Homo sapiens: one gene and its partners. The protein of the gene in region 3 interacts with the protein of the main gene of each other region in a pairwise test. Each region holds a gene or a part of one and is shown on either strand. Other genes may lie near its edges.

Region 1 (7,021 bases), about 17 Mb from region 3:
TTACACAGCAGCAGTGTTATTCATTCAAAGTTGGGTGTTTTAGAAATGAAATCAGAAATCTGTGCTTACTTACCCAGCGAACAAGGACATTCTGTTTTAAAATATAGAATGTACTTATCTCTTTTATTTTACTTTAAGTTCCGGAATTCATGTGCAGAATGTGCAGGTTTGTTACATAGGTATACGTATGCCATGGAGGTTTGCTGCACCTATTGACCCGTCCTGTAAGTTCCCTCCCCTCGTCCCACCTACCCCACAACAGGCCCTGGTGTGTGTTGTTCCCCTCCCTGTGTCCATGTATTCTCATTGTTCAACTCCTGCTTATGAGTGAGAACATGCAGTGTTTGGTTTTCTGTTCCTGTGTTAGTTTGCTGAGGATGATGGCTTCCAGCTTCATCCATGTCCCTGCAAAGGACATGATCTCATACCATTTTATAGCGGCAAAGTATTCCATGGTGTATATGTACATTTTCTTTATCCAAGCATACTTCTAACTTTGCATAGTGAACAAGACTTGACAATTCTAGCCTGAAATCTCTGAGTATATGACATTAGCATATGGAGATTCCATGCTGTGTAGACCAGAGATGGCACACTGGCACTCTGGGGGCTGAATCCCAGATTTAAAAATAGGGAATTTCGGCAGGGCACAGTGGCTCACACCTGTAATCCCAACACTTTGGGAGGCCAAGGGCAGCAGATCACAAGGTCAGGAGTTCGAGATCAGCCTGGCCAACATGGTGAAACCCTGTCTCTACTAAAAATACAAAAATTAACCAGGCGTGGTGGTGTATGCCTGTAATCCCAGTTACTCAGAAGGCTGAGGCAGGAGAATTGCTTGAACCCAGGAGGCGGAGGTTGCAGTGAGCAGAGATCGCACCACTGTACTCCACCCTGGGACAGAGTGAGATTCTGTCTCAAAAAAAAAAAAATCAATAAATAAAAAATAGGGAATTTCCTATATAAATCCCTATTTGGAGCTTCTCTGGAAACACTGAAGGTCTAACCACCTGGGGTCCTTAGCCCTTCACGGTAATAAGAAGTGGAAGAAATGTCCGTACCTCTTCAGGCTGGGCGTGTGCTCTGCAGCTCACCACAGTCCCCATTTTTTGCCTGTTGCCACTTGCCATTTTTTTTTTTTAGCTGTCATTTTTTTGTGTGCCTTCATAGCCACTTGTTTTACTGGATGAAAAATATTTCTCTGTTCCTATGCCTATAACAAAAGTGACAAAGTAAAAGCCTGAAAAAAAAAAAAACCTTATACTTAAAGAAAAATTGGAAGAGAAGAAAAATTGTTCTTTTTTAGAAGAGAAGAGCAATTTCTTACTGTTTGACAAGCACACACCCAGCTTCCTTGAGTCTTTTATTTTCCTCCTCTGCCCTGACAGCATTTAAATTCAGCTTCTGGTACAGATAGTTAACACTGCTTGAGAAGTGAATGGAATGTAGCAGCCTGTCCATTACCTTGAGAATTAGCATGTATTTCTAACTCGCAGTATTTCTAAATTCTGCTTTGACTCCAAGAATTAACTTGGATAAATCATTCACTACAACGAATCTACACTTAGCACCCTCATATATCAAATATGCCCAAAACATGATAATTTTAGTACTTAGTATGTGCATAGTACTATTATAAGTGCTTATGCATATATTAGTACATTTAACCCTCATAATTCTACCAGGCAGGTACTATTACAATTATCCCTATTTTACAGAGAAGGAAACTGAGACACAAGTTACATGTCTAGATTATACGACTAATGTGGCAGAAATGAGACAGGAACCCAGGCTGACTGTACCAAACTTAAGGGAAAGCTTTCAAAAGATCATGAAATCTTTGGAGGATCTGAAAATGACAGGAACAGAAGTAGTACTTTGTATCTCAAAGCCCAAATATGAAAATGAATGATATGGCTATGTTCTAATTGTCTTCATTCTGCAATCAAATATCAGCGAATCCTCTGGAGCCATTGGCAGCACCAACATGCCCACAGTGGAGGCAAAGTGAGGGACTGGTTCCAGTTTCCACTCAGCACTGATCTGCTGTGCCTCGGGGCATCTCTTGGTCCTTGAGTTTACTTTTGGTGGAATTAGGGCATGGGACTTGCTCTAAGGTGGTTTCTTCCTCTAAAGCTGTGTGATTCTGTGACTCTGTATCAGGAATTGAGCTAGCATTTGTCTAAGAAAAAAAAAAGGATAAATGTTTCTGCTTTTTGCATCACATGAACAAAGGTTAGCGGAGAAGACAGTGCCACCGAAGGACCCTGTATGCTACACACCTTTCTTTCAAGAGATGCACAAGTGCCCCAGTGCCTCAGCCAGGCCCCAGTAAACATTAAACATCGATTCCTTCTCTTTCGAGCTCACATGTCACCTCTTCCAAGCCTCCTGCCCCAACCTACACATATAGACCCGAGAATGGTCCTCTCCCTTGATGCCATAGTGCCTTGTCCTCACCTCACTGCCAGCCCCTTCCCCGTGGCAATGACCTGCAGGTGTACCCTCTGCTTCAGCCTCGACACTCTCCAAGACTGCTTCATCTTTGTCTTCTCACTCCACTTGCAGTAGCAAGTCCTCAAAGATTGTTTGAAGGGCCCAAATGTGAGTTTTAGTCTTTGCTATTATTTTCTGTACCACCTTGGCTAAGTACCTCAAAATTCTCAGTGCTTCTATTTTGTCATACACAAAACAAAGATAAACTGTTGGGCCCAACTAAAAGTTCTGAAGTTCTGAAGTGGAAGAACAGTGAATACCACAGAATAGCTGGGGCAGGCAGGCAGCCTGGGCCCTCCCACAACAATGCCAAGATGACTGAGTCTCAGAGGATCACAGAAAGTCCCCCTCCATGCGGTCAGATCAGGCCTTTGGCCTTTGGGTAAGGCTGTACTCAACTACCAAAGAAAGACAGCTTTATCTCTCTTTCAAAGAGTTCCAGCAAACCTTTGAAGTCAATGTTATGATGTTCCTGGCTAGGTGACATTGGGGAAAAGCTTCCTGTGATTTGCCCCAATTCCCTCCCCTCAGCGTCAATCCTCGGTGGAGGCAAAGAACATTTGCTCATGGCCAGCAGCTCACATCAGGTGCCTTGCTCATTCACAGCCTAAAAAATGGAGGCGAGGGGCAGGGAAAATTGTAGTTCATTCTTTATTTTGAAACCTTAATCAATGAATTAATGCCATCATTACACATTTTCTAAGACAGGAGACAAAAAGTTACAGCAAACTTGGGGTTCTCTGGGAGTTGTGGTTTACCAGGCCCACTGACACCATTCAGTTCCTTAGAAGGAGCTTGTCTCCCTTTGCATTAATTATCTTACATTGAAAAGATTCTGTTACTTTCATTTATCCTCCTAGGAAAAGTGGATTATATGCAAAATCATTAGATGACCCTTCTCATGGTAATTCTGAGTTCCATTTTACCTTTACAGGTTTATAATTAGACTTCGTATTCTAGGTTTGAATGTGTCCTAACTTTACAAAAGTCAGTGAATACTGTTAATTTCTTTTAAAAAGGTACTAGAAATAGTATATCCGGGTTTATGTTTTTCTCCTGGACCTAATTCTTCTGCCTCTGTACATTTTAGCAAGCAAACCTTTTAAGCATTTTGCCTCTTGGACTACTGCTTTTTTTCTGCATAAGGAATAGCAGTTACAAAGCCAAAAGGACCTTCTTTACATGGATCTTGCTTTGTCTTTACCTTGACAGAGGAGTGAATTAAAGATGCATTCAGCTATTGCATCAACTGGATGTTAACAAGAGAAGATAATCCGTTACATGATGTGCCTTCTTCTGTGCCCCAGAAACTTCTTCATACCTTTACCATCCCTCTCCTCTTTCAATCCCAGCTTCTGAAAAAAGAACTCGTCCTGCACTAGGTCCTTAATCCCATGAGAAGCTTCCATAACTCCCTGTCGCTTCTCTTACAATATAAAAGGTGCTCACGCCTTGAACCTTAAAAAAGTTCTTCAATCACTTGCAGATGATTTTTAAACTAGGACACATAGTTGGCTTTGGTGGACTGTAAAGAACTGAAGTAAAGGCGAAATGTTAAAAAAAATAAAAAATAAAAAAACAGCCAGAAAAACAAACCTTTACCCTGCCATGTGTGAAACTGTAGATGAGCTAGAACGAGAGTCCCCAGCTTAATGAAAACTGCCGAGGGTGGCAATAGTCCTGCTTGCCTGTGTTTCAGGGGTGGGCAAGATAAGGGATAGTGAAGATAGGGGAGTGACTAAGAGCATATCACAAGTTCATGTAGATAGTAACTTTCATGATACTGGCAAATAAGTAGCTGGACGTTACACAATAATACTTTACCTTTCTGGTTCTAACGCATTATCTTTTACGGTAGTTACAAGGACAGCCACATGTTATCAGTATTTATATGCTATTACAACACATTTGACTAAGGAGCTGATCTCAGTGTAAGATGCTTTGCTAGCATGTATACAAAAAATCAAAATGAATTAAAGGAAGTAAAGGCTTAATGTAAAAATAAAATAGGGCAGGGATAAGCACGTTTTTTCTGTGAAGGGTCAGTAAACAGGATAGGCTTTGCAGGCTCTCCATCTCCGTCACAACTCCACTCTGCCATTGTAGCATGAAAGCAGTCAAAGACAATATGTAAATACATGGGCATGGCTGTGTTCCAGTACAAATTTATTTACAAAAACAGGCAGCAGGAAGGACTGGCACACAAGCCATAGTTTGTCAAGCCCTGAAGATGAGGAAATCCCCCAAATAAGCAGAAGCACTTTAGTACTCTCCATAGAGCCCTCACTTACCCCTAGGTTACAGGGCTACATACAAGCTGTGTTTAACCTTAGAATATAAGCTCTGTGAGGTCAGAAACGTTGCAATATTCACAACTGTATTCCCAGTACTCAGTTCCCAGAGAACTGGCATAGTTGGCACAAGTACGGACTCACAATAAAGACATGTTCAATGAATTAACTAATGAATGAACAACTTATGGAGCTTTAAAAGGCAATCCTGACCATAGATGATTTTCCTATACTACCACGTCCACCCTCACTGTCATCCCGTCACGCCCCACTTCTTTGCAAACTGGACAACTGTACTGGGACTAGGGTACCAAAATTATGACTCCTTCTAAAAACTTTTACACTAATTTAGGAAAAAACTTGCTTTTCAACAGCTAAGATCACATGAAGGCATGTATATCTTACATTTTTCTTACTCCCCTTTGTCTTAGTTAAATCATTCTCTAGTAAATTCTCTTTCAAAGCAAAGGCAATGTCCAAGAGGGCAAAACCATTAATAACTATCTTTTGGGAACCACAAGTTCATGCAGATAGTAACTTTCATGATATTGCCAAATACGTATTTGGGCATTATACAATAGTACTTTCCTTTCCGGTTCTCAGGCATTATCTTTTATGGTAGTCAAAAGAGCAGTCACATGTTATCAATACTTTATCACAGGTCATGCTTCACCTATAGAAAGGTAAAAAATAACTCACACTGATCTCTCCTAAAAAAACGTGTGGTTCTCATAAGCTCTGGGCCATCGTTATACATTTATTAAGTGGCTACTAAGGGTTCTTGACATGGTGGGAAAAGCACCAAATGAAAAGCAAGGCACTATTGTGGCCCTTTCATTTCAAAAAAAGTGAGTTAGGATGACAATCATCTGCTAGGAACTACAAGTTCACGCAGATAGTTACTTTCATGATATTGTCAAATATAGTTGGACATCACACTTATAATACTTTATCTTTTGGTTCAGAGGCATTATCTTTTATAGCAGCCATGATGAGCTTATTTAAAGATAAAATATAACTGAATGCTAATTAACATAGATTTGAATGCTAAATTCATTAGGAACTATGTTCAAAGCCTAATGTTGAACAAACTTCAGACAATAGAGTTAAGAATTTTTTTTTTCTGTAAAGGACCTTAATGATCACTTGACATTCTCACTCTACAGATGAGATCCAACTAAGAAGAACAGAATACTTGCTATCTTCAGAGTAGAATATTTTGAAATGTGTGAGTATAATACATGTTTTATAGCCAACTAAAGATGTATCAAATGTTCCCCACGTGCTCCTTGGTAAAAAGCATATGAATATTTTGCTAATCCTGAGCCCATATAGTTTAAAAAAAGGGGGGAGCAGATGTTTGAAGATGTGCTATCCTCAAACTCAAACATGACTTCACATGTCAACATATGTTGGATTTGATTTCAGCCTGCTCAGGTAAGTCCCACGACAAGACACTCTTCCTACCCAGGAAGACTTCAACTTTCAAAGCACAGAGAGTCAGGTACTTAATGTGCAAAGATAGTTCAGTTTCCTTGGAAGAAAATCAGGAATAGAAGCCTTCTGTTTGGGTTGAGTGTTTCCCTAAAACCTGTTGAGTAGTAGTTTTTCCTAATATTGGACAGCAGTTAACTAGGAGCAGACAGATTGAATGAAGATGCCCATATCAACCTTGGTTACCACCTTGAGGTAGGCCTGAGCTGCTGCTTTTACTTCTTTGGCTGCAATCAAAGGCATCTCTGATTTTCTTCCTGCCACAACATTTCCTTAGCATTTTAATGCAATTTGCCCCAGAAAATGATTTGTTTCACCAAATTCTTTTTACTAGGTAATTTTCTAGAACACATGTGCTTTTATAAGGAAGTTAAAACTGTATTTCAAAGGTAAGCACAACCACAAACTAAGACACAATTACACTGTAATCCCAAAACGTGTATAAGTCATCCGGCACACACACACCTCTGTTTGCGCATTCTCCCTGATTCAACCACATCAACCATAAACACTGAGGTTCACAGATAGGAGAGTTCTAATACTCTAAACATAGGCCCTTCTCAGAAAGCCACAGTCATCAAAGACCACAGGTGAAAGACAACAGTTAAATGAGATACTATTCACAGGCTTTCAGATCAACATACACAGAGAGGTCATTATATCCAGAATTCTCCCAAGGAACCACCAGGCAAATACACACACTCACATAGATCCCACAAGCAGAAAAATGCATTTTATAA
Region 2 (7,956 bases), on a different chromosome or scaffold from region 3:
AGATCCTGTATCAAAAAAAAAAAAAAAAGACACTATCTTCCCTTGCTCTCCACTTTCCAGGGTATTGTGGGTGAACTTGGCTTGACTCTTTAGGCTACCATGACAGTGTCCTGCACTGGATTGCAGCCTCTTCCTTTTCTCCTGCCACACCCTCCTGAAAGCTGATGGATGCCCAGGCCTTTGCAGACTCTGAGCTGCAACTTTTTCCAGATGCCTTGTAACTTAAGGAGACGGTTCCCTCACCTCCCCTGGACAGGCTTCTTCTGGCTGCCCTCTTTGAGCATACGGCTGGTTTGAGTTTCCAGGGTACCTCAGTCCTCAGCTCAAAATTAATCTCAAAAGAAAAGCTGATGGCTGATGTTTTCCTTTCTGCCCCAGTGCACAGGGAGCATTGCAGAAAGGTCAGACTGGCACTTGGCTGACAGCCTGAGCCTGGAAGGGCGGTGCTATTTTGGTCCCCTCCCTCTGGCAGAGCTGGCAAGTCCAGAGCAGTGGGGAGAGAAAGGTTGCCTCCCCTTGCCCTCCAAACAAGTGCACGCTGCCCTCCCACCACCCCTCATGCTTCTTGCCCTGCTGTTGTTAATCTGGTCCCTTTTGACCAGTGACCCAATTTCATTACTCCTTACCTAAGTAAGACCCTGGTAGAAAAGCTGTGATTCATGACTGCCGTTTGCACCTGTACTGGGAATCAGAAGGCTTGAGTTGGCTGGGTGCGGTGGCTCATGCCTGTAATCCCAGCACTTTGGGAGGCCAAGGCGGGTGGATCACCTGAGGTCAGGAAGGAGTTTGAGACCAGCCTGGCCAACATGGCAAAACCTTGTTTCTAGAGAGTACAAAAATTGGCCAGGCGCATTGGTAGGTGCCTATAATCCCAGCTACTTGGGAGGCTGAGGCAGAAGAATCACTTGAACCCGGGAGGTGGAGGTTGCAGTGAGCCGGGATCACACCACTGTTCTCCAGCCTGGGCTACAGAGCAAGACTCAATCTCAAAAAAAAAAAAAAAAAAAAAAATTAACTGACAATAGGTGTATGGGTTTATTTCTGGAATCTCAGTTCTATTCCATTGATCTATTGATCTATATGTCTATGTTTATGCCAGTCCTACACTATTTTAGTGACTGTAGCTTTGTAGTAAGTTTTGATGTCAAGAAATATGAGGATATCCCTTTTACAGATGAGGACATGGGGCTCAGACAGGTGACAGCAAGTTGGCCAGTGATCCTCCTTCACAGAAGGTGGGTCCTCAGGAGTGAGCAGCCACGCTTTCCATACTCCCCACCCCCAAAGCAGCAGAAAAAGGCCCGGCCCAGTGCTACCTTTTTAATTAATTATTTTTTGAGATGGAGTCTCTGTTGCCCAGACTGGAGTGCAGTGCCGCGATCTCTGCTCACTGCAAGCTCCGCCTCCCAGGTTCACGCCATTCTCCTGCCTCAGCCTCCCGAGTAACTGGGACTATGTAGGTGCCTGCCACCATGCCTGGCTCATTTTTTGTATTTTTAGTAGAGATGGGGTTTCACTGTGTTAGCCAGGATGGTCTCGATCTGCTGACCTCGTGATCCGCCCATCTTGGCCTCCCAAAGTGTTGGGATTACGGGCTTGAGCCACTGTGCCCAGCCCTTTTTCTTTTTTCTTTTCTTTTTTTTTTTTTTTTGGAGACAGGGTCTCACTCTGTTGCTCAGGCTGGAGTGCCGTGGCGTGATCACAGCTCACTGCAGCCTTGAACCTCACGGGCTCAAGTGATCCTCCTACCTCAGCATCCCAAGTAGCTGGGAGCATAGGCATGTATGACCACAGCCAGCTAATTTTTTTTTTTTTTGAGTTGGAGTCTCGCCCTGTCACCTAGGCTGGAGTACAATGGCATGATCTCGGCTCACTGCAGCCTGCACCTTCCAGGTTCAAGTGATTCTCCTGCCTCAGTCTCCCGAGTAGCTGGGATTGCAGGCGTGTGCAACCACGCGCAGCTAATTTTTGTATTTTTAGTAGAGCAAGGTTTCTCCATGTTGGCCAGGCTGGTCTCAAACTCCTGACCTCAAGTGATCTGCCTTCCTTGGCCTCCCAAAGTGCTGGGATTACAGGCACGAACCTGGCCTTTTTTTATTTTTTATGGAGACAGGGCCTCCCTCTGTTGCCCAGGTTGGTCTTGAACTCTTGGGCTCAAGCGATCCTCCTGCCTCAGCCTCCCAAAGTGCTGGGATTACAGGTGAGAGCCATAGCACCCAGCCCGGTGCTACTTCTGACTCTGTGAAGGCAGCAACCACATCCTCCCTTTCAGACCTCACATAACCAGAAGATTCCCCTTGTGAATGGGGTAGTGTGGGCCTGTCAGCCTTCACGGAGGTCTGGCCTCACAGGCCAAGGGCTTCTGGCTCACAGGGCTCCCTGTGCTGTGGGGAGATGCCAAGGTGATGGTCAGGACACAGCAGCCACTTGGAGAAGAGCCCCTTATGCTGACTTTTGGAGCCCACTCCCACTTTGCTCCCTCTGGCCTCTTCTTCCCTTTATAGCGGTTGGATTGCAGCCCTGTCTACACTGGATAATCATTCCCTGGCCATATCAGTCATCATGATGGTGGTGGCTGGCTTCTTCACCCTCTGTGCCGTGCTCTCAGTCTTCCTCCTGCAGCGGGTGAGTGGTGTGGGCAGGGCTGACAGCAAATGGGAGGAGGCAGGCAACCGTTTCCTGCCCTTGCCACGAGATGTTTTTCACCACTGCAGTTGGGCATCCTAGGCCCCCAAAGGTCCAGTACCTTTCTCCAGGGATCTGGGTGGGGGGTCAGGCAGTGCCAGGCTTCTGGTGACCCCTTTGGGAGTATAACCTGGATGGCTGGCTTCCTGGTGGGCCCAAAGGACAGGCTTCTCTCACCCCACCCCTCTTCGCCAGGTGCACTCCCTCTACCGACGGACAGGGGCCAGCTTCCAGCAGGCCCAGGAGGAGTTTTCCCAGGGCATCTTCAGCAGCAGAACCTTCCACAGAGCTGCTTCATCTGCTGCCCAAGGAGCCTTCCAGGGGAATTAGTCCTCCTCTCTTCTCTCCCCCTCAGCCTTTCTCTCGCCTGCCTTCTGAGCTGCACTTTCCGTGGGTGCCTTATGTGGTGGTGGTTGTGCCCAGCACAGACCTGGCAGGGTTCTTGCCGTGGCTCTTCCTCCTCCCTCAGCGACCAGCTCTCCCTGGAACGGGAGGGACAGGGAATTTTTTCCCCCTCTATGTACAAAAAAAAACAAAGCTCTCTTTCCTTCTCTGGTGATGGTTTGGTAGGATTCTTTTGTCTCTGGAAGCAGTGGGACTGAAGTTCTCTTCGTCCTGTGCACACACAGACACCCCCACACAGTTGGGATCACAGGCTGACCTGGGCCCATCCCAGCTGGAGCTTTCTGCCAGGGTCCTGGGCCTTGACTCCCCCACCCTGCAGGCCTGGCCTGAATCTGGCTTCTTAGACACAGCCCAGTCCTTCCTGCCTGGGCTGGGAATAAGCCTCTCACAGGTTCTGGTGGACAGATCTGTTCCCCAGGTCACTCCAGTGGTCTCCAGGCTTCCAGAGAAGGCTGGTTGCCTCAAGCTCTTCTCTGCCTCATAAACGGATCCAGAGAAGGCTGGTTGCCTTAAGCTCTTCCCTGCCTCGTGTTCCTGAGAAACGGATTAATAGCCCTTTATCCCCCTGCACCCTCCTGCAGGGGATGGCACTTTGAGCCCTCTGGAGCCCTCCCCTTGCTGAGCCTTACTCTCTTCAGACTTTCTGAATGTACAATGCCGTTGGTTGGGATTTGGGGACTGGAAGGGACCAAGGACACTGACCCCAAGCTGTCCTGCCTAGCGTCCAGCGTCTTCTAGGAGGGTGGGGTCTGCCTGTCCTGGTGTGGTTGGTTTGGCCCTGTTTGCTGTGACTACCCCCCCCCCTCCCCGAACCGAGGGACGGCTGCCTTTGTCTCTGCCTCAGATGCCACCTGCCCCGCCCATGCTCCCCATCAGCAGCATCCAGACTTTCAGGAAGGGCAGGGCCAGCCAGTCCAGAACCGCATCCCTCAGCAGGGACTGATAAGCCATCTCTCGGAGGGCCCCCTAATACCCAGTGGAGTCTGGTTCACACCCTGGGGGGTGTGTCACTGTGATGGGACACGTAGGAGTCCACCCTTAAAACCAGCACCCTGTCCCTCGAGGCTGCCGAGTGGGTGTGTGGACTGGGGTGCCTTCCCACAAAACTAGCCTCCGGCTCTGGGCCCGAGACAGCCGCAGGCCCCAGCCACTGAATGATACTGGCAGCGGCTGGGGTTTTATGAACTCCTTTCTGGTATTTTTTCCCCTCTATGTACAAATGTATATGTTACGTCTCAATTTTTGTGCTTAAGTAAAAATAAAAACATTTTCAGACAACACGGGTCCACATGTCTGGTGGACTTGGGAGGACGGGGCAGCCCACAGGATTAGGGGCTGGGCGCCGCTGCTAAGATTGGAGAGCGGGGACAGTTAAGATGCAATAAATAGGTCAAGGCCCTTCCTCAGAAAAGTGAAAAGCAGCTGGGAGGCCTGGGAAGCCAACGCGGCCTCTTCCAAAGGCGCCTTCTCGTGCCAGTAGCTCTCCTTTCAGAGCTGCGGGTCCTGGGGAGGGGCCCTGGGAGCCTCCCGGACGCCGTCGCCCCCACACACGCCCGCTCCGCCGCCCGCGCCCTCACGTGGGCGATCTCTAGACGCCTCTGCGCCCGCTAGGAGTCCCCGGAGACCACGCCGGCCGTCCTCCGTTGTTAACTTCTAGGCTCGCGGGGCCTCCGTATCCCCACGTGGGCCCTGCAGGAACTGGCGGGGCGCGTGACCCGGCGAGGCCCAGAGACAGGGGAGGGGCGCCGGGAGCCGGGCGGATCCGCGTCCCCGATGCGCGCTGCATTTCCGGCGGGCGGCGCTGGGGGCAGCGTGGAGCCACCCAGTGCTCGGCCCGCCCCGCAACCCGCCGGAACCGCCGCCCGCAGCGAGGAAGCGCCCGCGCGGGCGCAGGCGGCCGGAATGGCGGGGCCCGGCTGGGGTCCCCCGCGCCTGGACGGCTTCATCCTCACCGAGCGCCTGGGCAGCGGCACGTACGCCACGGTGTACAAGGCCTACGCCAAGGTGGGTGCCGGCCGATGGCCCCGTGCCCGCCCGAGCTAGCTCGGCTGGTGCCGGCCGGGGAGACTCTGAGAGGTTAGCGACAGTGTGGGAATAGTTAGGGGCGGGAGGCCGGCCTCGCCCCAGCTGACCCTCGGCGGAGGTTGGAGCCGACTGCCACGCTTAGGTCTTAAAGAGCGCACCTGCACCCACCTGCAGGGTCAGTGGCTGAAGAACAGGCTCAAAACAGGTTACCTGGTGGGCTGGGAGGAGTCTGGGACTGGAGCCAGTTGGGAGGCAGAGTGGGCGGTTCTAGAACCCTGAGTGACATGCCTCTGCCGGGAGCACTCCAGAATGCAAAGAAATGGATCAGCTAGCCGAGGGTTGGAGAAGACCAGGCTGAGGCTGTGTCGGGAAGCCAGGATTCCAGAATCAGCATTCCTCACTGGCCTCACAAGGGAAAGCTGGGAAGCCCGGTGCTGGTGTGCAGTAGGTAGACCCGGGGAGGGGCGGGGTGGGGGAACAGAGGGAACCAGATAGAGCCTTTCCAGTCAGACAAGGGTCCTGGCCCCCTCAAGGCAGAGTCCCCAAATCTCCTGTCTCGCAGAAGGACACTCGTGAAGTGGTAGCCATAAAGTGTGTAGCCAAGAAAAGTCTGAACAAGGCATCGGTGGAGAACCTCCTCACGGAGATTGAGATCCTCAAGGGCATTCGACATCCCCACATTGTGCAGCTGAAAGACTTTCAGGTGTGAGCCTGGGGCGGGGCCGCTGCCAAAGGGAGCTGGAGAAGGGACACTCTCTTCAGGCCGCCTCTCTGCCTCTAAACACAGTGGGACAGTGACAATATCTACCTCATCATGGAGTTTTGCGCAGGGGGCGACCTGTCTCGCTTCATCCATACCCGCAGGATTCTGCCTGAGAAGGTGGCGCGTGTCTTCATGCAGCAATTAGGTAAAGGCCTGTGACACCAGCCTGACACTCTGTCCCTTGTTCTCTGCCCCCCACCATCCCACCCCTCCCCCAGGCTTAGAGCCTTGGCACGCATTGCAGCTGCCTCCTGCACAGCCTGAAATTTTATGGTCCTGTTTATCTCATACACTCAACCCTTGCTCAAGGACGCTGTGGGAGAGATGAGGGGGTAACCCCTCTGTGGGGTGTTCAGGCTTCCATACATAGAACATAATATAAGGACCTTGTAGAACATTCCAGAGTCCTGTAGGTAGGACTCAAGTGCTGTGCCAAGGAAAAGAGCAGGATCTCAAGGGCTGGGGCATCCAGAGAAGCTTCTGAGAGGTGGGGAGACTTGTGAAGGGGCAGAGGGAAGGAGGGTGGGCACTCGGGTGGGGTGGCAAACTCCTAGAAGTGGTGTGATCTTGGTGCTTATATGGAAAACATTAGACCAGCCAGGCAGGAACTGGGGTTGTGCAGGCTTGAGGAGGCAGATGTGAGCCGGGGAGGCGAGAGGCAGGCGGGAATGGGCTCTGAACTGTCTCTCTTCGTGGGTCCTGCTCCTCAGCTAGCGCCCTGCAATTCCTGCATGAACGGAATATCTCTCACCTGGATCTGAAGCCACAGAACATTCTACTGAGCTCCTTGGAGAAGCCCCACCTAAAACTGGCAGGTCTGTGTCTGAAACAGCAGGGATGAGGTTTGGAGAGTGCAGAGGCCTCCCTCTGCCTGGGCTCACTCAGCAGCCCTGGTTCTTATGGAGCCCTCTATAGAGTCCTCAAAGAGTGACAGGCCGTGAAGTCTGGGGTTGGGCCCTGTCATCAAAAGGTGGAAGCTTTCTCAGGCTACCCATGCTCAAGTCCAGCAGCATAATGGGTGGAGTTAGGGCTCAGTCTGTGGCCAGAGTTGGGACTCACTGTGTGTCCAGGTTTAGGGGTCAATCTGGGAACAGTGCCAGGGTTCAGCGTGTGACAAGCATCAGGGATCCCTCTGTGGGCAGGGACAGGACTTGGTCTGTCATCAGAATTGGGGCTCAAGTCTGTGACTCCATCTGTGGCCACATAGGAGGGGTGTGGTGGGGGAGTAGGAGGTGGTGACCCTTGATAAGATTTGGATAATTGACACTGGAGGCCAGAGACTGTGATAGAACCTAAGCCTGGGGGGACAGTGAGAGGGTGGGGGCTTATGCAGGTAGCTGGTGTGATCAGGTGGGCTTCCTAGGAAAAGGTGCCCAAGGGAGCTGGGAAGGATGGGTAGGTTTTATACCCCAGAGGCAGATATAGGAGGGTGTTCCAGCCTAATGATGAGCAGAGGCTTGGAAATAGGGTTGATCCTGGCGGGTCTGGAGGGTGGAGAGGAGCCTGGGGTGAGGCTTTACAAGTCAGGAGCTGAAGCAGCTGGAATTCAAGCCCTGCTGCCTCTCCTCTTGCCTGCAGACTTTGGTTTCGCACAACACATGTCCCCGTGGGATGAGAAGCACGTGCTCCGTGGCTCCCCCCTCTACATGGCCCCCGAGATGGTGTGCCAGCGGCAGTATGACGCCCGCGTGGACCTCTGGTCCATGGGGGTCATCCTGTATGGTGAGACCTCTTTTCCCTGCTTCTCACCCTGAGGCCTACAGTTTCCTCAGGCAAGGCCTCTCTGGGCCACTTCTGAAGGGTTCTGATGAAAACTGACTGCTGGCCCAGGGCCCCTGCTGAGGGGCGTCAGGCCAGGCTTGACCCATTCCCTCCCAGCCTCCGCTCTGCCTCCCTTCCACAGAAGCCCTCTTCGGGCAGCCCCCCTTTGCCTCCAGGTCGTTCTCGGAGCTGGAAGAGAAGATCCGTAGCAACCGGGTCATCGAGGTGTGTCTAGCAGGGCCTTAGCGACCACTGGGGGGCAGAGGGAGTCAGGGCCCTGAGGGTTTAGACCTCGTTCTGACCTGCAGAGACTGGAG
Region 3 (7,021 bases):
AATACACACGTGGGAGACAGCTGGCATCATCTGAGTCTTGGAATAGCTTTCTTGTTTGTTATCTGCAAAAAGCTAGGTGGCCTTTTTAGTATCAAATTTCAATCTTGGCCTCACTGGAACCATGCTCTACAGAGCTTTCCCAACAGTTTAGCAAGTAAGCAAAATCAGCTTTTGCTCTTCATATTTCGTAGGTGAGACTGGGGCTTTTAAAAGAAATATTTCATAAAAAAGACAAAAGCATAAATGAGAAATTAGAGGGATTTTAGTTATCATTAAAGGAAAAAACTCACAAATTGATCCCATTTGTTCCATGGGGAAGAAAAGTATTATAAAAGGAAATAACTTGATTTTTAGGTTTGAAGGGGGTCCCAATCTAATAATAAAAGTCTTTTGATAAAACCATCATAAAAATAAAAACTAATTTAAAATATAACTGCCAGTGTTTTTTAGGATTTAAAAAGGTGAGATGTTCCAGGTTTAAGCAAATGGTTCCTTGGGTTGCCAAATGCATTCCCATGAGTGTTTCTTAGGCTGAGGGAATAGAGAGCCATGCTCAATCTGTTTACCCGTAAGGACTGAAATTCAACTACATGTACACATTTAAGACTTGCCCTAGTTCAATGGTCAGCTCAAGTACTGGAGATTTAGGCTACTGGCTGTGTACCGGCATGGGAAGCTGTCTTCAACTCTTTCACAACTCACGCCAGAACAGAGAAGCTTGACAGGGCAGGAAAAGCGAGCAACTGCGTGTCAAACCTGCAGGTGAAACCCCTAGTGTAGAAGAGCAACTATTTATTTGTCAACCCTACAGATTTTGTTTTTAAAAATTAAGCTTAGTACTAAAAAGTCAAAATTTTTTTGCATGATAGAGGAGTGTAAATAAAGTTCCATAAACCAGTATACATATGCTTATGAGCCAATAATCTTAAAAAGACAAAAAAAGCTGCATGGATCCTAAATGACTATGTAAATAGATCCACTCCAGGTCAAAAATATTGTAAGCACAAGTCTTAAATTCTTAATAGCAAGGATTAGAATGAAAGAAGAAGCTGAGCAGTAGCAATGCTGGGAGGAAGTACTGTGTATTGAATATTATTCCCTAAAAGGAATAGAGGAGGGGAGAAAAAGCACAATTCTGATTGCTCTTTTCACATTTCAGTATCTCAGAACTTCATCGAAAATAGGAAAAGCTAATCCAGAAACTCTCATCTGCTCATTATCATTGCTGAAGGGTGTTTTAGGAATGACAGAATTACTCCCCCAGGGACAGGCTGTGTGTGGTAGAAAGCCACTCTCACAAGGAGGCTGGCTGAGGAGGGGGACTTTGGGAGGAGGCTAAGTCAGCAAGCAAGTGGCCTCTGAGGTTCTGGCTTTCACGTCTGTGACACTGCTGTGGAACTGGGGAGACATGAGACCCCTCTACTGTGGGTTCTGTTGGTTAAAAATGCAACAGACTACATTTATAGCACTTCAGTCATTTAAAAAACAAAAGCTTATCCTCCTTCCCCTACCCTACCCAACTGTAGGAAAGGAGAAATTCATGAAGCATTTTTTTTTTAAAGGTTTCTGCAGTGCTATGAAAGTTCAAAGGTAAAACCTAACAGCCCCACATTGTTAGGATGATCTCCAGGGACCCTGAATTGGATACTTGAAGGTTGATAGAAACTGAAATGAGCTGGACTTAAGCTGCTGGCTCACTCCCTCCACACCACAGTCATTTCTGTTTGTTCCACCTGGAGTGGTCCCGTGCCACCCCTCAGTGAACCCTCCGGGCAGCAGCAGGGGGGCTGTTTTTGGGAAGCTACTGGTTTTGCCATTTGCTTCCAGAATCACATAGACTATAACAAACTTTACATTAAACACTGTTCTGTCCTGAGTTGGGGGAAAGCCCATTGAGGAGGGGCCGAGTTCACTGGGACTCTTCCCTCCTTGGCGTGGCGTCATACGTGGCCCTCAGGTTTCTCTTCTTCCATTGCTTGACTGTCTGTTCCTTTTTCATTAGTGACCCCTTCTGAAGTCTTCTTGCCCATTGCTTTATTGGCCTCTTCCTAAGGAAGAAATAAGCAATCAAGAAGGTTAGAGAATAAAGAAGTGAAATAATTCCTGGCTCCTCCAGACTGTGTATCAGGTCCCAAACACGAGGTATTGCAATGATTTTCTCTAGGATATCTAGCTGGGTAGGTCAGGGCTGTGCTACCAATAGTTAGAGTGGGAGCTTCACCTTTCTTTGGTTGACACATGGGACAGCTGTGGGATAATGAAGTCTGGGCATTCCTGGAGACTGGGGACAGGACCAGAATGCCAACTATGCTGTAGGGAGGCCGCCCTCTCTGCAGACAGACCTCTCCTGCCACATTTTTCAGGCTGGCTGCCGACCCTCAAGATAACAGGTGTGATGATGGGGCTCCTATAACATCCCATTTCCTGGGAAAATCGTAAGTCTTACTTGAAAAAAAAATCCTGATGGGTTTACAATTTTTCAAAAATGACAAAAGGGCTGGGCATGGTGGCTCATGTCTATAATCCCAGCACTTTGGGAGACCAAAGCAGGAGGAACCCTTGAAGCCAGGGGTTCGAGACCAGCCTAGACAACAAAGTGAAACCCTATCTTTACAAAAAATTTTAAAAAATTAGCCCAGTGTGGTAGTGTGCTTGTCCTAGCTACTCAGGAGGCTGAGGTGGGAGGATCACTTGATCCAGAGAAGTCAAGGCTGCAGTGAGCCATGTTAGCACGACTGCATTACAGTCTGGGTGACAGAGTGAGACTCTGACTCGGGCAGGGGCCCGGGGGGCGGGCGGGGGGAGTTGGTGCAAAATTGCTGTTTTTGCCATTGAAAGTAATGGTAAAAACCACAATTACTTTTGAACCAATCTAATACATCTGAAGGGAATTTAGTTTTCTCATCTCTCATGACGTGTGCCTTTGGTGACTGGAACTGCCCTACTCGACCTTTGGATCCAAAGCAGCCTCAGATTAGATTGGAAATCGTTTTCCCTGCTCTTGAGCCTCTTGGGTTGTTTAGCTGTTCCTGTCCCCTAAAATCAAAGGGGCATGGTCAGGCTCTTGATCCACCTGCAGTCATCAGGCTCTGCACACACCTTGGCATCCTGCTCTGCAAACTTCTTGAACATGTTGGCGTATATCCTGCGGTCCCGCTCGTTGTGCTCCTTGGCCTTTTTCTGGCACATGGAGATCTGCAGTCTTGCAGCCTTATTCTGGGGGTTTACTTCCAGCACTTTCTCAAAGTCACCCTTGGCTGACTCAAACTCGTTCATGAGCAGCTGGGCTTCACCCCTCCTATACAAGCCTTTCTCATTGGCACTGTCCAGTCCAAGGGCCTAGGAATAGATGGTCTATATTTTAGAAAGGACGAATTTTAATAAATTCAGTAAACAGCTTACCAAAGTTCTCTTGCCAAAGGAGATGGAAAAAGTGTATTTAAAAAAATGGGGCTCAAGATAATTACATACTACTGATCAAAATTTACTACCCAAATTATTTTCTGCATTTAATGCAATTTCTAGAAAGATCCCAAGGAGATTTGAGAGGGGGCTCTTGAGAAGTTCATTTTAAAGTTCATTGGAACAAATAAGTGCCCAAGAATGGCTGAAAAAATTTGGGAAAAAAGAAAAAAATAAGAGGCACTTGTCTTACCAGAGAAAAAGACAAACTTTAAAACTACTGAAATTAAGACAGTTTGGTTACTAGCATGTGGACAAACAGCTCAGTGGAACAGAACGAATCATTCAGAAACAGTCATGTGTCTGCATATAAAAACATTTGAAAATGACAAAGGTGGTAATGTGAATCAGTGGAGAGTTAACTTTAAAATAAACGGGGCCAGGATGGCAGCTATCCACATAGAAAATAAGAGTTAAGGCCGGGTGCAGTGGTTCACACCCTAATCCCAGCACTTTGGGAGGCTGAGGCAGGTGATCACCTGAGGTGAGGAGTTCGAGACCAGCCTGGCCAACATGGCGAAATCCTGTCTCTACTGAAAATACAAAAATTAGCTGGGCATGGTGGCAGGCGCCTGTAATCCCAGCTACTTGGGAGGCTGAGGCAGGAGAATTGCTTGAACCAGGGAGGTGGAGGTTGGAGTGGGCTGAGATCGTGCCACTGCACTCCAGGCTGGGTGACAGAGTGAGACTCTTGTCTCCAAAAAAAAAAAAAAAAAAAAGTTCTTACCTCATATTGTAAGCACAAAAGTAAATTCTAGATCAACCATATTTACATATTAAAAAAAACCATAAAATGTTTCAATTATTTTTTATTTTAAAATATGTAAAATATAATCATTATTTTTTTGAGGCAGGGTCTCACTCTGTCGCCCAGGCTGGAGGGCAGTGGCTCAATCACAGCTCACTGCAGCCTCTATCTCCTGGGCTCAGGCAATCCTCTCGCCTCAGCCTCCGAAAGTCCTGGGGTTACAGGTCACAGGTGTAAACCACTGTGCCTGGCTTCAGTTATTTTTATAATCTTGGTGTGGGGAAGTCTTTTCTAACTAGAAAGGAGACGACAAATCTGACTACATAAACATTAAAACCTTCTTTAAAGAGAAAGATATAATCAACAAAGCTAAAAGAAAATTGCTGGGTTGTGGTGGCTCACACCTGTAATCCCAGCACTTTGGGAAGCTGAGGTGGCAAATCACCTGAGGTCAGGAATTGGAAACCAGCCGGGCCAACATGGTGAAACCCTGTCTCTACTAAAAATACAAAAATTAGCCTGGTGTGGTGGTCGGCACCTGTGGTCTAAGCTACTTGGGAGGCTGAGGCAGGAGAATCGCTTGAACTCGGGAGGTGGAGGTTAGAGTGAGCCAAGATTGTGCCATTGCACTCCAGACTGGGTAACAGAGAAAGACTCCATCTCCAAAAAAAAAAAAAAGAGGAAAATAAGGAGAACAGGCTTCCTATTGCCAAAGATAGGGTTAATAGTGATGCTATATGACTGCTTCTGTCAATAGAAGACAGAAAAATAATGTAGTCAAGGCTGTGCTGGGTGTGGTACCTCACAACTTTAATCCCAGCTCTTTGGAAGACCCCCATCTCTACAAAAGTAAATTTAAAAATTAGCAGGGTGTGGTGGCATGCACTTGTAGTCCCAGCTACTCAGGAGGCTGAGGTGGGAGGATAGCTTGGGCCCCAGAGTTTGAGGCTGTAGTACATTATGTTCATGTGTATTAATAGCCACCGCACCCCAGCCTGGGCAAAATAGCAACAACTTGTCTCTAAAACAAACAAAACACACACACGCGCGCGCGCACACACTCTCTCTCTCTCTCTCTCCGCTCTGTATGAAAAAAACGAAAAAATACATATAAAATTAATAACTGGTCTTGGGAGAGAGGATGCGATAGGAAACACTGATCCACAAAATTCAAAAATAATCTCACAAAGAATGTACAAAATAGTTGCCTTGCTTTTCTTATCCTTTTATGTCTACCTTTAAGATACATCCAATGATTAGTTTTTACTTTTACCCACAGTATAATATATACTGTTCACTCTGAGACCAGATACCTAAAATAGTATCGGCTGGTGTATAAATATATCAGAACGATACATAACGATACAGATGATAAACCACTGTTATAGAGTACTGTGTGTAAGCACTCAAAAGACCAAAGATAGTATTAATAAGACAAATGTAAAAATAAAAAGGCTGCTGATGCTCTGTGGACCTTTCATATTATTTATGCATATCAGTGAATAAATGATTATAATAAAAATTGACCTATATATATGCTTTATATGAACAGTTGCAGTCTGTTAAAGTCCAGAAAAGCTTAAGTTAAATCTTCTCTTATTAAACTGAACCTGAGGAGTTATACGTCTACTCTGATATAAATACTACAGTTATAAGGAAGGTCGTGGATAAAAATTATTTAATTTTAATCAAAACTTTTCTTCAGAATGCATTATGATAAACAGTCTAGGTATCATAAAAGTCTGACTGTAATAAAAATCTTGCTGAATTTCCCAATTCATACTGAGAAACAAATAATCCCAAACATTCAAATAAATAAAAAAAAGCAAAATGAAAAATCCTGCAACCTTTGGCTGAGAGGAAGCAAAAGACAGAGATGGAGAAAAGATCTGGAGTATCTAAAGTCCATCTCACAGGAGACACGATGTTACCTTGTCACAGCATTCAACAGCTTTGGTGTATTCTCTAAGCTTCAGGTAGCACATGGCCAGGTTCAGAAAGGCAGCAAGGAGAAATGATTCAGAAGCTTTCGATTCCTTTTCTGATAAACCATATTCCATCTCTAACCAGGACACTATCTTCCCATACTGAATCACCGCCTGCATGTATTTGCCTCCCTAGGATAAAAAAGCGTCATTACTTGTACTCAGCTCTTGAGGGGGTACAAAAGAAAAGCAAATCCTCAAAGTGAAGCAACCCCTCCAGCAAACCCTGGTACAGCTGGTTTCTTTCTTTCCTTCTGGAGATGGCTCTCCAGGTACCTTTCCCACTCCCTTGGAGGCCTCGATGGCCTGTGGGCTGGTTTGGGGCAGTGCCTGAGCACTGCCTAGTGCTGCTCTGCAGCATTTCCATCCGTCCCTTCAGCAGGTGTAGTACAGCAAGGCTTCTGGGCTATGTTCTTTGGTGCTAATATTCTTTAGTCTTTTTTTTTTTTTTTTTTTTTTTTTTTTTTGAGACACAGTCTCGCACTGTCTCCAGGGCTGGAGTGCAATGGCGCCATCTCAGCTCACTGCAACCTCCGCCTCCCGGGTTCCAGCGATTCTCCTGCCTCAGCCTCCCGAGTAGCTGGGGACTACAGGTGGCCGCCACCAAGCCCAGCTATTTTTTTTTGTATTTTTAGTAGAGACAGCGTTTCACTATGTTGGCCAGGCTGGTCTTGAACTCCTGACCTTGTGATCCGCCTGCCTTGGCCTCCCAAAGTGCTGGGATTACAGGCATGAGCCACCACACCTGGCCTATTCTTTAGTCTTTCAAAAGGATTGTGAGCAGTTTTAGACTATGCCACTAAAAAAATGAAAAGGAAGTTACTTT

What was found. Proteins that work in one complex are often made in the same cells at the same time.
Region 1: the proteins of FKBP5 (region 3) and CILK1 interact in binary tests that used the Homo sapiens proteins (3 or more experiments, as listed by UniProt).
Region 2: the proteins of FKBP5 (region 3) and ULK3 interact in binary tests that used the Homo sapiens proteins (3 or more experiments, as listed by UniProt).

The regions. Positions count from the first base shown.
Region 1 is NC_000006.12:53,051,810-53,058,830, forward strand, and holds part of CILK1 (serine/threonine-protein kinase ICK), read right to left. Parts: intron 1-7,021.
Region 2 is NC_000015.10:74,840,142-74,848,097, reverse strand, and holds the start of ULK3 (serine/threonine-protein kinase ULK3), read left to right. Parts: upstream 1-4,941; 5' UTR 4,942-4,992; coding exon 4,993-5,094; exon of another isoform or gene 5,095-5,424; coding exon of another isoform or gene 5,425-5,559; intron 5,560-5,677; coding exon 5,678-5,818; intron 5,819-5,902; coding exon 5,903-6,023; intron 6,024-6,588; coding exon 6,589-6,693; intron 6,694-7,390; exon of another isoform or gene 7,391-7,456; coding exon 7,457-7,600; exon of another isoform or gene 7,601-7,781; coding exon 7,782-7,864; intron 7,865-7,956. Other genes in the region: SCAMP2 (secretory carrier-associated membrane protein 2), read left to right, coding at 2,505-2,625, 2,881-3,015. UniProt on the Homo sapiens protein: Serine/threonine protein kinase that acts as a regulator of Sonic hedgehog (SHH) signaling and autophagy.
Region 3 is NC_000006.12:35,573,895-35,580,915, forward strand, and holds part of FKBP5 (peptidyl-prolyl cis-trans isomerase FKBP5), read right to left. Parts: exon of another isoform or gene 6,663-7,021; intron 6,328-6,662; coding exon 6,142-6,327; intron 3,340-6,141; coding exon 3,100-3,339; intron 2,049-3,099; coding exon 1,941-2,048; 3' UTR 1-1,940. UniProt on the Homo sapiens protein: Immunophilin protein with PPIase and co-chaperone activities. Component of unligated steroid receptors heterocomplexes through interaction with heat-shock protein 90 (HSP90).